Linked DNA regions of Homo sapiens. The protein of the gene in region 3 interacts with the protein of the main gene of each other region in a pairwise test. Each region holds a gene or a part of one and is shown on either strand. Other genes may lie near its edges.

The links. Proteins that work in one complex are often made in the same cells at the same time.
Region 1: the proteins of CACNA1A (region 3) and ABCA2 interact in a two-hybrid assay, tested with the Homo sapiens proteins (one study listed by BioGRID and IntAct).
Region 2: the proteins of CACNA1A (region 3) and PMM1 interact in a two-hybrid assay, tested with the Homo sapiens proteins (one study listed by BioGRID and IntAct).
Region 4: the proteins of CACNA1A (region 3) and C1QTNF1 interact in a two-hybrid assay, tested with the Homo sapiens proteins (one study listed by BioGRID and IntAct).

What each region holds. Positions count from the first base shown.
Region 1 is NC_000009.12:137,021,738-137,025,237, reverse strand, and holds part of ABCA2 (ATP-binding cassette sub-family A member 2), read left to right. Parts: intron 1-1,001; coding exon 1,002-1,095; intron 1,096-1,397; coding exon 1,398-1,400; intron 1,401-2,185; coding exon 2,186-2,297; intron 2,298-2,372; coding exon 2,373-2,536; intron 2,537-2,759; coding exon 2,760-2,887; intron 2,888-3,236; coding exon 3,237-3,347; intron 3,348-3,500. UniProt on the Homo sapiens protein: Probable lipid transporter that modulates cholesterol sequestration in the late endosome/lysosome by regulating the intracellular sphingolipid metabolism, in turn participates in cholesterol homeostasis.
Region 2 is NC_000022.11:41,579,841-41,583,340, reverse strand, and holds part of PMM1 (phosphomannomutase 1), read left to right. Parts: intron 1-3,500. UniProt on the Homo sapiens protein: Involved in the synthesis of the GDP-mannose and dolichol-phosphate-mannose required for a number of critical mannosyl transfer reactions. In addition, may be responsible for the degradation of glucose-1,6-bisphosphate in ischemic brain.
Region 3 is NC_000019.10:13,499,980-13,503,479, forward strand, and holds part of CACNA1A (voltage-dependent P/Q-type calcium channel subunit alpha-1A), read right to left. Parts: intron 1-3,500.
Region 4 is NC_000017.11:79,030,669-79,034,168, forward strand, and holds part of C1QTNF1 (complement C1q tumor necrosis factor-related protein 1 isoform 1 precursor), read left to right. Parts: intron 1-3,500.

The DNA.
Region 1 (3,500 bases), on a different chromosome or scaffold from region 3:
GAAGTGAGCAAAGCACCTCTTTCTCACTCCACGCAGGTCCCACTAGGGCTCACCTTGGTGCCCAGCCTGGGTTAGCAGGAGCCGACCTGGGGAAACTGAGCTCCAAGGCCCAAGACTGGCTGCCCCGGGTCAGGAGAGGGGACAGGGCAGAAAGAGGTGCCTTTGGGCCAGGTGTGGTGGCTCACGCCCAGGTGGGCGGATCACGAGGTCAGGAGATCGACACCATCCTGGCTAACACGGTGAAACCCCGTCTCTACTAAAAATACAAAAAATTAGCTGGGCATGGTGGCGGGCGCCTGTAGTCCCAGCTACTCGAGAGGCTGAGGCAAGAGAATGGTGTGAACTTGGGGGACGGAGCTTGCAGTGAGCTGAGATCGCACCACTGTGCTCCAGCCTGGGTGACAGAGTGAGACTCCGTCTCAAAAAAAAAAAAAAAAAAAGGTGCCTTTGCTTCAGGGACTGGGGCTGTTAGACCCCTTACCAGGTCTTCTCCGAGGCTCAGGGCCCTGGGCGCAGGCCAAGCCTCTCAACCAGGCCTCCTCATCTCCCCAGGCCCCGGTATTGGTGGGGAGGAAGTGGGAGGAAGGTGAACCCGGGGCAGTGTGGGAAGTGTAGGCGGGGCTAGTGGCTCAGATGGTCCCCAAGATTTTGCCCAGGTAGCCCTGGAGGTGGGGAGGGAGAAGATGAGCTGGGATATACATGGGTCAGAGTAGACCACAAGCTGGCCGATTTGTCCCTGTAGGCCCTGAGGCTCCTCAGAGGGCACGTAGGCCCAGTGTGGGCTGGGGACGGGAAACCTGATTTGCTGAGCCAGACAATCCTTACCCTCAGTGCCCTGGAAGGGGCTCAGACCTTCAGTGGTTCCGAAGGGCCTGTGCCCACCTTCCCTGGCCCCAGGGAGCACGTGGTCCTGTCTGGGCTGGGCCAGCCCTATGGGAGGCTGGGGAGGGCCTAGGCGAGCACAGGTCTGTCCTATCCCTCACTGGGCCCACCCTTTCCAGTGGGTCCTGGCCTTCGAGATCTTCATCCCCCTGGTGCTGTTCTTTATCCTGCTGGGGCTGCGACAGAAGAAGCCCACCATCTCCGTGAAGGAAGGTGAGTGCGGCAGGAGGCCCCAGGCACAGCCGGGGGAGCGCGGCACCTCGCACGCCTGCGCTGTGTGTGCACATCTGCACACGGGTGTCCTGCTCCCGGAGTCCCTGAGGTGCGGTGCCTGCTCCCCTGTGTGGTCCTGGGCCGTGCCTCCTGGCTGGGCTGTGGAGGTCGGGGCTGGCCTGTGGCCGCGAATGATGATGCCAACGCCTCTTCCTGGTGATGTGGGCACTCACTGGTCTCCTCTGTTCTGTTTTGATCCCCCTCCCTCCCCGCATGGTCTCTTGTCCTCGGCTGGCATGCAGTCTGTAAGTGAGCGGCCACCTCCTCCTGGCTGGCCTGGGCAGCAGCTGCGGGGGGCCCATGGGCCGTCCTGGCTTGAGCGCCCTCCCCGCTTGCATTAACAGCCCTCCCGGGCCCCCTGCCGGCCTCAGGAACAGCTGGCTCCAGATGGGGGGTGGCAGGCAGTGAAGTGGGAGGTGGTAGGGAGTGAAAGGCCCGGCCACCTAAAGGCACAGCTGGTGCCTGGGTCAAGCTGAGGCGGCATCTCTCTGCCTGGCCTTGCCTTCTAGGGCTGGGGTGCCTCGGCTTCTGGGCTGAGTCTGGGCTGAGGCTGGGCTGGCCTGGGCTGGGGCTGGAGCGGCCTGGCTACTCTCCCTTCATACTCCTTCAGGCTCTTGCACTCACTCTGCTAACCAGCTGGCCAGAGGTCAGAGGTCACTGCCCAGAGGGGGTCCTTTGTCCTCCCCTGGGCTCTGTAGGCAGTGCCACACCTGAAACGTTTTCGGGGGGAGAGTGCCAGGGCATGTGGGCCTGCACTGGCTGAAAGGAAAGGAATGCTCTGGGAGTTATGGCAGAAGGGGTGGTGAGTGGCTCTTTGACCTCTGACCTGCTGGAGTCATTCGCCCCAGAACGCTTGGCCTGTAGCCCAGCTGGGGCCAGGGCTCTGTGCCGCCTTCTCCCTAACGCTGCTTCTCCTTCCTGACTTTCTCTAAATTTCTCCTCTCGGCCTCTGTCTCCCTCCCCTTCTGGATTCCTCTCTCTCTCTCTCCCCTTTCACCCCCGACCCTGCCCTCTCCCGTGGGTCTGCCAGCCTTCTACACAGCGGCGCCCCTGACGTCTGCCGGCATCCTGCCTGTCATGCAATCGCTGTGCCCGGACGGCCAGCGAGACGAGTTCGGCTTCCTGCAGTACGCCAACTCCACGTGAGTGCCCACCCGCCCCTCGGAGCACCCACCCCTCCCCAGCCCATCCAGTGAGTGACATCCGCCATGGTGCAGGGTCACGCAGCTGCTTGAGCGCCTGGACCGCGTGGTGGAGGAAGGCAACCTGTTTGACCCAGCGCGGCCCAGCCTGGGCTCAGAGCTCGAGGCCCTACGCCAGCATCTGGAGGCCCTCAGTGCGGGCCCGGGCACCTCGGGGAGCCACCTGGACAGATCCACAGGTGTGCCCTGTGCAGGGAAGTTGGGGGGCAGGGCTGCGGGCAAAGCTCTGCTGTCACTGGGCTGAAGCCCACATCCACTCTGGGCCCCTCCACCTGCACTGAGTTCCCAGCCACGCACAGGCTGCAGTGGCAGAGCTGTGGTGTTGGGCTCGGCTCCGAGCGCATGTGGGGGCACCTTGCCAAGGTGCAGCGGCCTCTCAGCCTCGCCTTCCTGCCTGTCCAGTGTCTTCCTTCTCTCTGGACTCGGTGGCCAGAAACCCGCAGGAGCTCTGGCGTTTCCTGACGCAAAACTTGTCGCTGCCCAATAGCACGGCCCAAGCACTCTTGGCCGCCCGTGTGGACCCGCCCGAGGTAAGGCAGGGACAGCTCCCAGCCCTGGCCACTCCCTTCTGCCCCAGCCACGCCCCCTGGTTGCTGAGCCATCCTCAGGATGCTCAGCCTGAGTCACGCCCAGACCGTCTGAACCTTGCCCCCACCATCTGAGCCACGCCCCCACTCTCTGAGCCATGCCCCCACCATCTGAGCCACGCCCCCACACCTACATCGGAGCCACGCCCCCACCATCTGAGCCACGCCCCCACTCTCTGAGCCACGCCCCCACCATCTAAGCCACGCCCCCACACGTCCATCGGAGCCACGCCCCCACCATCTGAGCCACGCCCCCCACACCCCATCTGAGCCATTCCCCCACACCTCCTAGGTCTACCACCTGCTCTTTGGTCCCTCATCTGCCCTGGATTCACAGTCTGGCCTCCACAAGGGTCAGGAGCCCTGGAGCCGCCTAGGGGGCAATCCCCTGTTCCGGATGGAGGTGAGGGCATCCATGTGTGGGATGGGCCTGGAGTGCTGCCTGCCTCTGGGGGTGCTTCTGCTCCGTGGGTGAGGAAAGGGCCCCTTTGGTGACTTGGAGCTCCTCCTGGGAGAGGGGGAGGGTCCCAGGGGTCTATGGCAGGCATGAGGGGTA
Region 2 (3,500 bases), on a different chromosome or scaffold from region 3:
CCAGCTAATTTTTGTACTTTTTTAGTAGAGGCAGGGTTTCACCACGTTGGCCAGGCTGGTCTCGAACTCCTGACCTAAGGTGATCCGCCTGCCTCGGCCTCCCAAAGTTCTGGGATTACAGGCATGAGCCACCACGCACAGCCCATTAGAACCTTTCAAACATGTCAGCCGCATTCACCCCCCAGCCCCACCCCCTCATTTACAATCCTTCCTTGGCTCCTCGTTGCCAACTGGATGATGTCCTAGCCCCCTGCTATGGTGCCTCAAGCCCTGAGGGCTCTGTCTGGCTCTGGCTCTCCGCGTCTCCTTTCTATGCCCTTCAAGTTCCACTTTCTATTCCTGGAACACACCAAGGTCCTCTCACCTCTGCCTGTACTGCCCCTGCTAAACCTTGATGTGCATTTTGCTTTTCTCCCCACCGCCTCCCTCCCTCTCGGGGATGGAGCAATCCACCCATCCAGACCTTTCCATGCTGGCCCGTCCACGTCATTCTGTCATTCTCTCTGACCTGTTCGGTGGCTCTCCCTGCCCTCTGCTCCAGCTATGGCCTCTTGGCTGATTCTAGAGTGCTGTGCCTCTGTCAGAGCACACTTCTCTCAGGCCCAGCTCGTCCCTCCCCTCCTTCAAATCCCCTTTCACATCCTTTTCCCAGTGGGGCCTCCGAGAGTATCACATCCACTGCTGCACTTCCTCCTCCTTCCCCTACCTTATTTCTCCCCAAGTAGCCTTGGACAACTTTCATCATCTACTTTTAAAATCCGAATTACTGTCTGTCCCTGTCCCAGAACTGTAAGCTCCATGAGGGATTTCTGCGGCTTGTTCTCCTCTGGATCCCCTATGCTTGGCACATGGCATACTTTTTGTTGTTATTGTTTTTGAGACAGGGTCTTACTCTGTTGCCCAGTCTGGAGTGCAGTGCAGTGATCCAGTCCTAGCTCACTGCAGCCTCGATCTCTCAGGCTCAAGCGATCCTCACACCTCAGCCTCCTGAGTAGCTGGGACCACAGGTGCATTACACCATGCCAGGCTAATTTTTAAAATATTTTGTAGGGATGGGATCTCGCTGTGTCTCCCAGGCCAGTTTTGAACTCCTAGCCTCAAGTGGGCCTTCTCCCTCAGCCTTCCAAAGCACCAAGACTGTAGGTGTGAGCCACCGCACCTCGCAAAGAAATACCCTTTTTTGTTTTTTTTTTTTTGGAGACTGAGTTTCGCTCTGTCACCCAGGCTGGAGTGCTGTGGCACAATCTCGGCTCACTGCAACCTCCACCTCCCGGGTTCAAACAATTCTTCTGCCCCAGCCTCCCAAGTATCTGGGACTACAGGCACATGCTGCCACGCCCGGCTAATTTTTTTTTTTTAGACAGAGTCTTGCTCTGTCACCAGGCTGGAGTGCAGTGGCACAATCTCGGCTCACTGGAACCCCTGACTCGCTGGTTCAAGCGATTCTTCTGCCTCAGCCTTCCCAAGTAGCTAGGATTACATGCACCACAATGCCCAGCTAATTTTTTGTATTTTTAGTAGAGACGGGGTTTCACCATGTTGGCCAGGATGGTCTCGATCTTCTGACCTCGTGATCCGCCTGCCTCAGCCTGCCAAAGTGCTGGGATTACAGGCGTGGCCACTGTGCCCGGCCTAATATTTTGTATTTTAGTAGAGATGGGGTTTCACCGTGTTGCCCAGGCTGGTCTCGAACTCCTGAGCTCAGGCAATCCACCCACCTCAACCTTCCAAAGTGATTATAGGTGTGAGCCACTGTGCCCGGCAAGAAATACCTTTTGAATGAATGAAATGAGCTGTATTATCTCCATTTTATAAATGAGGAAACCAAGGCTCGATGAGAAGGGCCCTGCCCGAGGTCACATAGGGAGTTGGTTGCAGAGCAAAGATTTGATTTTGCCATTGGCCCTCTGGTGCCTCCCTGAGGGTGCCTCTCAGCTCAGTGACTCCTGACTCCCACCTGTGCCCTGAGGCTTAGGGGAGGCAGTGCCCACAGGCACAGGGACTTTTTTTTTTTTTCTTGATAGAGTCTTGCTCTGTCACCCAGGCTGGAGTGCAGTAGCATGATCTCAGCTCACTGCAACCTTCGCTGCCTAGGCTCAAGCAATTCTCCTGCCTCAGCCTCCTGAGTAGCTGGGATTACAGGCCCATGCCACCACACCTGGCTAAGTTTTTTGGTTTTGGTTTTGGTTTTGGTTTGGTTTTGGGTTTTTTTTTTTTTTTTTTTTTTGAGATGGAGTCTCACTCTGTCGCCAGGCTGGAGTGCAGTGGTGAGATCTCGGCTCGCTGCAACCTCTGCCTCCCGGGTTCAAGCGATTCTCCTGCCTCAGCCTCCCAAGTAGCTGGGACTACAAGCGCCTGCCACCACGCCCAGCTAATTTTTGTATTTTTAGTAGAGACAGGGTTTCACCATGCTGGCTAGGATGGTCTCGATCTCTTAACCTTGTGATCCGCCCTCCTTGGCCTTCCAAAGTGCTGGAATTACGGGCATGAGCCACCGCGCCCGGCCTAATTTTTGTATTTTTTAGTAGGGACAGGGTTTTGCCATGTTCAGGCTGGTCTCAAATCCCTGGCCTCAAGTGATCTGCCTACCTTGGCCTCCCAAAGTGCTGGGATTATAGATGTGAGCCGCTGCGCCCGGCCACGGGGACTTTTTTTTTGGGGTAGTTAGGATTGGTCTTAGGCAAAGAACCCTTCCCCCCCAATACACGTGCTGAGAAGTTATCCCTTCCTGTCCACCCAGGTTCCCAGTCCCAGCTCTACCCATTTGCCTTGTAACCTGGAAAAGCATCTTTACTAACGTGTGCCTCAGTTTCCTTATGTGTAAGGTGGGGGTAATAGCAGTTCCCATCCCATGGGCTGTCATGAGCACTGGATGAGGTGGCACATGGACCCCACCTGGCATGGAGTTGGGGAGCCACACCCTAACTCCCCACCCCAGAGCCTTCTCAAGTATTTTTGGCTCTTGTTTGCTCCCTTCTGGCACTGGAGGAGCATGAACCTTCCTGATCTGTGCGCCCTGCCCTGGCCCAGAGCTGGTGTAAATAAATGCTTAACCCAGCTCATCTTCCAGAACCCTGAAGCGGGGATGAGTACTTCCCTTCCTTAGATGAGGACACTGAGGCCAGAGGGTGAGTAACCAGCTCGAGGTCACAGTGCCGGTCCCTGCTGAGGCTGGCCTTGCACATGGGGCTGTCTAGTGACCAGCCTTGTTCTCCAGAGAAGGGAGGTGCAGCCAGCCTCGGCCATGTGGAAACATTTCTTCAGAGCCTGGGGCAGTCTTAGTGGTAGCCCTGGGCCTACAGAGTGGACGCTGGTGGGGACTCTGGCCTCCCTGGGGCCCACCTACCTGCTGGAAAGCCAGGCCAAGGCTGGCAGGGGGCTCACATCCCTTATCTCTGCTTTTCCATGAGAGGGAAGCAGGCAGGGGTCATTCATTACTTCTCTGTCCTTTAGTCCAGGAAATAGGCTCAGAGAGGTCAGGTGACTTGCCCATGGTCACA
Region 3 (3,500 bases):
AGCCCTACGCACCCAACAGATGCCTCCCACTCCAAGTCCCTGAAGAAAGACTTCATTCTCAAGGGGCCGCTGCATCCAATCTACTCAAGCACTAACATTTCAGAAACTTTCATTGGTCTGATAATCTCATGGACAGTCTCTCAACCCCCTGCAACTAAAACCCATCAAAATCCTAAAACGTTGGCACAAGGGTAGATCAGATAGATGTTATACAATTTAGTTAATGGGTGAAGACAGGTACCTTTTCTCATTTGCTCAGCAAACGTTTATAGGACGCCTGCTTTGTCCCACACACTGGGGTTGCAGTGGTGAAGAACAGGGTAAAGATCATGGGTCTCACAGCCTCAGAGCTTGACTTTTTCCTGGGGAATGGTAGAACTACCAGGGAGGGGTGGAACCCCACCCAAGAGAACCCCTTCTTTCTCTCTCTCTAGTGCAGGCACATAGCTTTGAATGACATCCTTAATCTTTCTTATTTCTCTGACCGGGATTTAACACTATTACTTCCACTCCTTTCCATAGATCCACATCCTTAATCCTAAGCCATCGAGGCCAGACGTGCTTTGGAATTCAGAACTCAGGGCTTTTAGACGCATTGCAAAGATGGGAATGTAAAATGGTACAACCACTTAGGAAAACAGTTTGAGAGCCTCTTATAAAATTAAACATACACCTACCACACAACTCAGCAATCTCACTCCTGGGTTAATTTACCCAAGAGAAATGAAATGTATGAAATGAAATGTTCCCACTAAAACCCATAAGCCAATGTTTATAGCAGCTCTATTCATAATCATTGAAACTGGAAGCATCCCAATGTCCTTCGGCTGGGAAGCAAACTCTGGTCCATCCATATCATGGAATCCTGCTCAACACCAAAAAGGAAGGCGCTACTGTCACAGGCAACAGCATGAATGAATCTCAAAGTCTGAGTAAAAGAATCCACATTCAAAAGGCTATATACTGTGAAATTACATTTATATGACCTTCGGCAAAAGGCAAAGCTGTAGGGATGGAGAACAGATCAGTGGTTGAAGGGGCTGGAGAAGTGGGGTGCTGACTCAAGAGGGGCACTGTGGGGGTATTTTAGGGTTGATGAAACTGTCCCATATCTTGATTTGGGTGGTGGCCACAACTACATCCATTTGTCAAAGCTTGCAGACCAGTATGTCAAAAGGGTGAATTTTGCTACAAATAAATTATACATCAATAAATCTATTTTTTTTTTGAGACAGAGTCTCAAAAAAAAGTACAGTGGTGCAATCTCGGCTCACTGCAACCTCTGCCTCCCAGGTTCAAATGATTCTCCTGCCAGCCTCCCGAGTAGCTGGGATTATAGACGCACAATACCACGCCTGGCTAATTTTTGTATTTTTAGTAGAGACGGGGTTTCACCATGTTGGCCAGGCTGGTCTCGAACTCCTGACCTCATGATCCACCGGCCTCAGCCTCCCAAAGTGCTGGGATTATAGGCGTGAACCACCAGACCCGGCCCCTATAAACCTGATTTTTAAGGAAAAGAAAAATGATAACAAGATGTCTCTATGATCTAACCTGGATACTCCAACCCTAGCCCATGAACTTACCACATGGGGAATCCCTAGAAGCTAGCTAGAAAAGCAGAATCCCAGACCCCACCCAAATCCTGCTGGACCAGAACCATCCTGTTAACAAGACAACTTCCATACACCTGAAAGTTTGACAGGACTACAATGCAGACCTAACAGTCAGGAGCTGAAGCAGCACCTCATCATCAAGCACATCTAACATTTCTGCTGCAAAACATACTCAAATGCACACCAAGTAGAATGAATGAAAACTGTAAATTAAGACTTCAAACTGAAGTCAGTTCAGGTTAGGTTTTACCTCTATATGAGCTCGTCTTTTGGTTTTTGGAGCTTTTTGGATTGGGGAATTGTGGATAAGAAATTGCACCCTTTTTGAAAATACTCCCATTGGAAAAGCCGTGCTAAATTTTACTTCGCAGAATTTTGCTCCTCTGGAAATACCAGCCAAGCCGGTCTAGTACAAGGATCACGTAAGTGACACCATCCTGCCCTCTACGGCAGTACCTTCTAGAACATTCTATCTCTCAGGACAGGCCAAGAGTCTGATAACCTGCTCCCATGTCTCCCAGCGCTTCTCATGCAGAAAGTTTCTCTTTAGAGAGCTTTTCTTAAAAAAAAAAAAAAAAAAAAAAATGAGAGGAGTGCCAATCAGCCAATGTCCACAGATGTCAAAGTGATGTCACCTGATGTCAATGTGACTTTAGGTGTCTTGTTAAGATTTCTGCAAACCGGATGAAAAGCTGGAATTCTACGTGTAATTCAGGCAACTGTGCGTGATAATACACTGACCTGCTTCCAGTGTTCCTCCGATGGCCTGAGTTTCTACATCATGTTCAGTGGGAGACCTGGTGGCACAGGGAGGGCTGGAAAGATGACATTCACCTTGGCACTTGGTAGAAGGAGTGAGTGGCATTAAGTGGGGAGGGAACTCTAGGAAGGCTGACAGATGCTCCTTTTTGAGCTGACAGATCTGAGCTCTTCGGCAATCATCAGAGACCCTCATGGCCCTATTTGAATCACAATTCCAGTCAATGAAAACATGAAACCAAGGTGTGTGGTCAAGACGGCTTGCTGCCTGGCATGAGAAAAACACGGCAATGTAAATTTGAACATCAAAGACTTCCATTTGGGTTTCCTCACTTAGGAAGAGGGGAAAAAATGAAATAAATGAGGATTCTTAATTGTCATTGATGGCTTCAAGTTTGACCCACTGAGGGATGAAAGAGGAAGAAATCATAGTGACAAATTGCCCCGAGTGTGGAGAAAGCAAGACTGCATCCTTCACCAGTGTACCATGCCAGAATTTACATTTGGAAGTAGCACTCTTAGGCCCTGTGAGCATACCGACAAGTTCATGGATCATTCACTCACTTCTCTTAAACAAGACAGGGAGGAACCTGCTTTCCATATCGACCTGCAACCCTTAGTCAACACCATTTCCAAATACACATCCCACAACACATGCATCAAAAAGTAGCAGGGGCGATTCCACTCCTATCTAAGAGAACTGTGGGAAAAAAATAATAGAAGACACAAGAATGTTCCCAGTGGCACAAACAGAAATGACACAAATGCCCATCAACAGTAGAATGGATAGATTGTAGTAGAGTCACATACACAGATGTGAGCAAAAGAAGCCAGTGGCAAAAGAACGTACTGTGTGACTCCATTTACATGTTTAAAAGAGGCAAAATGAACCTTAGAAGTCAGGTGAGCGGTACCCTTGTTGGGGGAGCAACTAGGAGGCGGTATGGGGAGGGGGACTTCCAGGGCACTGATCGGGACCTGGGTGCTGGATACGTGGGTGTGTTCATTTTGTAAAAATCTATGCATCTGAATATATGTACTTGCCTGTACATATATTAGACTTTATTTAAGTACCTACACACTTTTTTTTTCACTCTCAGGATATGCTGAAACATTTTTTTTTAA
Region 4 (3,500 bases), on a different chromosome or scaffold from region 3:
AGCTCACTGCAATCTCCATCTCCTGGGTTCAAGCGATTCTCCTGCCTCAGCCTTCCGACTAGCTGGGATTTTAGGCACACGCCACCACACCCAGCTAATTTTTGTACTTTTTAGTAGAGACGGGGTTTTACCATGTTGGTCAGGATGATATTGAACTCCTGACCTCAAGCGATCCGCCTGCCTCGGCCTCCCAGAGTGCTGGGATTACAGGCGTGAGCTACTGTGCCCGGCCCAAACATCTTTCCATGTCAGTAAATATTCACCTATTTACAGAGACGCCTAACTGGTGCTGCTGGCTGATTCTGCTCCCCAGTCCCTCCATATTATTTCTTTTCTTTTCTTTTTTTTTTTTTTTGAGATGGAGTCTTGCACTGTCGCCCAGGCTGGAGTGCAGTGGCATGATCTTGGCTCACTGCAAGCTCCACCTGACAGGTTCATGCCATTCTCCTGCCTCAGCCTCCCAAGTAGCTGGGACTACAGGTGTCTGCCACCACGCCCGGCTAATTTTTTGTATTTTTAGTAGAGACGGGGTTTCACCATGTTAGCCAGGATGGTCTCCATCTCCTGACCTCGTGATCTGCCTGCCTCGGCCTCCCAAAGTGATGGGATTACAGGCGTGAGCCACCGTGCCCAGCCCATATTATTTCTTTAAATGTCTTTAGAAAGAACGCGTTTACTGGTTTACCACAATCCCCATCCCTCCCTATTGCTGATTTCACCACTCTCATCAACCACCTTGTTTTTCTAGTTTCCATCATATGGATGGATGCACTGTAAATTTTTTGTTTTCTTTTTTTGAGATGGAGTTTCACTCTGTCACCCAGGCTGGAGTGCAGTGGTGCTATTTCACCTCACTGCATCCTCGCCTCCCAGGTTCAAGCAATTCTCCTGCCTCAGCCTCCCGAGTAGCTGGGATTACAGGCATGTGCCATGCCTGGCTAAATTTTGTATTTTTAGTAGAGACAAAGTTTCACCATGTCGGCCAGGCTGGTCTTGAACTCCTGACCTCAGGTGATCTGCCTGCCTCAGCCTCCCAAAGTGCTGGGATTACAGGCGTGAGCCACTGCACCCAGCCATGTATTTCATTAGACTGTCTTCCTGGACATGTAGGTGGTTTGTAACCTTGGTGAATGGAGGCAGTGGTTTCATCTCTTTGAAGCAATAGACTTTCTGAGTGCAGATAAGAGGAGCGTTTCTAGGGAAGATGGCTACATGGCCACACCAGGAGTCAGCACTCTGGTGACAGTGATGTACCTTGGATCTCTGTGTCCCCAGCTGGAATTAGAGAGAGATTTGGACAGGCTTGTGGCTGAGGCATGTCATCTTTGGACGATGGCTCTGTACTTGGGATTGATTGAAGGTGAGGAGAGCATTGGAGCCCTGTTGAGAGTTAGACACCGGATGCTGGTGATGCCTGAGAAATGAGATGGGGCTCCCATTTCCCAGGGGCTTGGAGTCTTGGGGACAGGACGAGGAAACCAAGGACTGTAGACCGGTTCGTCCGGATGCTGGGGGAGGGGCACCTACAGCACACCCAGGTCTGGGCAACTTCCCGGAGGAGGTGGCCTCAGGCTGAGCTCTGGAGAATACACGGATGGAGAAGGTGGAGGAGAAACAGGCATCCAGACAGAGGAAAGAGCGGGTGCCAGAGGACGAGACCTCAAGTGTGATCTGTTAGGGACTGAGTAGCTCCAGGGAGCTGGACTGAAAGGGACTCACGCGGGGTGGGGAAGGGCCAGATGGAAACGCTCAGGGCTTACTCCCTCCTTTACTGGCATAGGAAGCCCTTGGAGCCAGGGGTGGCATTCAGATTTGCGTTTTTCAGAGCTGCCTCTGGAAGCAGCGTGGGAGACAGATGGGAGGCAGAAAACCAGCCAGGGCTGGGGAAGAAGTGATGGAGAGGAGAGGAGACCTGCAGGGGGCTGGCGATGGATGAGATGTGGCGGGTGCAAGGAAGGTGGCATCCAAGTGGCTTGCAGGCTTCTGGCCCGGGACCCCGCGTGATGGCATGCATAGCTTTCACCAAGCTGCAAGCCACAGGAGGAGAAGCTAATGTGGTAAGGACGGGGGAGAAGGATATGAGTTAATTGGGGGCTTAAAAGCCTTAGGGCAGAGCAGCCTGGTGCGGTGGCTCACACCTGTAATCCCAGCACTTTAGGAGGCCGAGGCGGGTGGATCGCTTTGAGGTTAGGAGTTCGAGACCAGCCTGACAAACATGGCAAAACCCCATCTCTACTAAAAATACAAAAATTAGCTGGGCGTGGTGGTGGGCACCTGTAATCCCAGCTACTTTGGAGGCTGAGGCAGGAGAATTGCTTGAACCCAGGAGGCGGAGGTTGCAGCGAGCCAAGATTGTACCATTGTACTCCTGCCTGGGTGACAAGAGCAAAACTCTGTCTCAAAAAAAAAAAAAAAAAAAAGTCTTAGCGCAGAGCAAAGAGGAGGTGTTCAGCAGATGATTGCATATGTGGGTCTAGACCAGCGCTGCCCAGCAGAACCTTCAGCTGTGGTGCAAGGTGCTAAGAGCTGTGCTGTCTAGTATGGCAGCTGCTAGTCACGTGAGCACTTAAAATGTGGCTCCTTGGCCGAGAACTGGATGTTTCATTTTGTTTAACTGACATAGCTCCATGTGGCTCGTAGCCACTGTACTGACTTAAACATTTGCAAGCCCAGGTCTCAGCAGCCAGGTCAGTGGTGGGGACATGGAATGGGGCATTGTCAGCTGAAGATGTGGTGTGGACCAGGACAGGCAGAAAGAGGTCAGGCACGGTGGCTTCACGCTGATAATCCTACCCGCTTTGGGAGGCCAAGGCTGGAGGATTGCTTGAGACCAGCCTGGGAAACATAGTGAGATCCTGTCTCTAAAAAAAAAAAATTTTTTTTTTTAATTAGCTGGATGTGGTGGCATGTGCTTGTAGTTCCAGCTACCCGGGAGGCTGAGATGGGAGGATCACTTGGGTCCAAGGGTTTGAAGCTGCAGTGAGCCATGACTGTACCACTGCACTCCAGCCTGGGTGACAGGAGACCCTGTCTCCTAAATAAATAAATAAATAAATGTAGAATTAGGAGCAAGAGGAGCTGAGAGCTGAGGAACAGCCTGGGAGAGCACCTGTCTTTGGGGGTTGATCAGGAAGGCTAAACACTGGGAGACAGTGTGGGCCAAACCCCATGGCTGAAGAAGAGGGCAGTCGACATTGGCAGATGCTTACAGTGCGCACGAAAGAGGAATGCAGAAGGGTGTTGGGTGCCACGAGGGTCGTGGGTGATCGTAGCCAAGCAGTCGGGGCGGGGCCAGCAGGAGGAGGGCCAGTGGGATGCTGTGCTGATTATATTCCTGACCTAGAAGCCCCAGGCTGGGGATAAAGCCCTGTCTTATGCCAGGCTTCCTCAGGAGCTGCCTGGAAAATGCTGGGGCTTGTCCAGGCCCCAGACAACCAAATACGTTTGTGCTGCTTGTAAAGGGCTGGGTGCGACGGGGCACCAGGCCATAGAATTCCCAG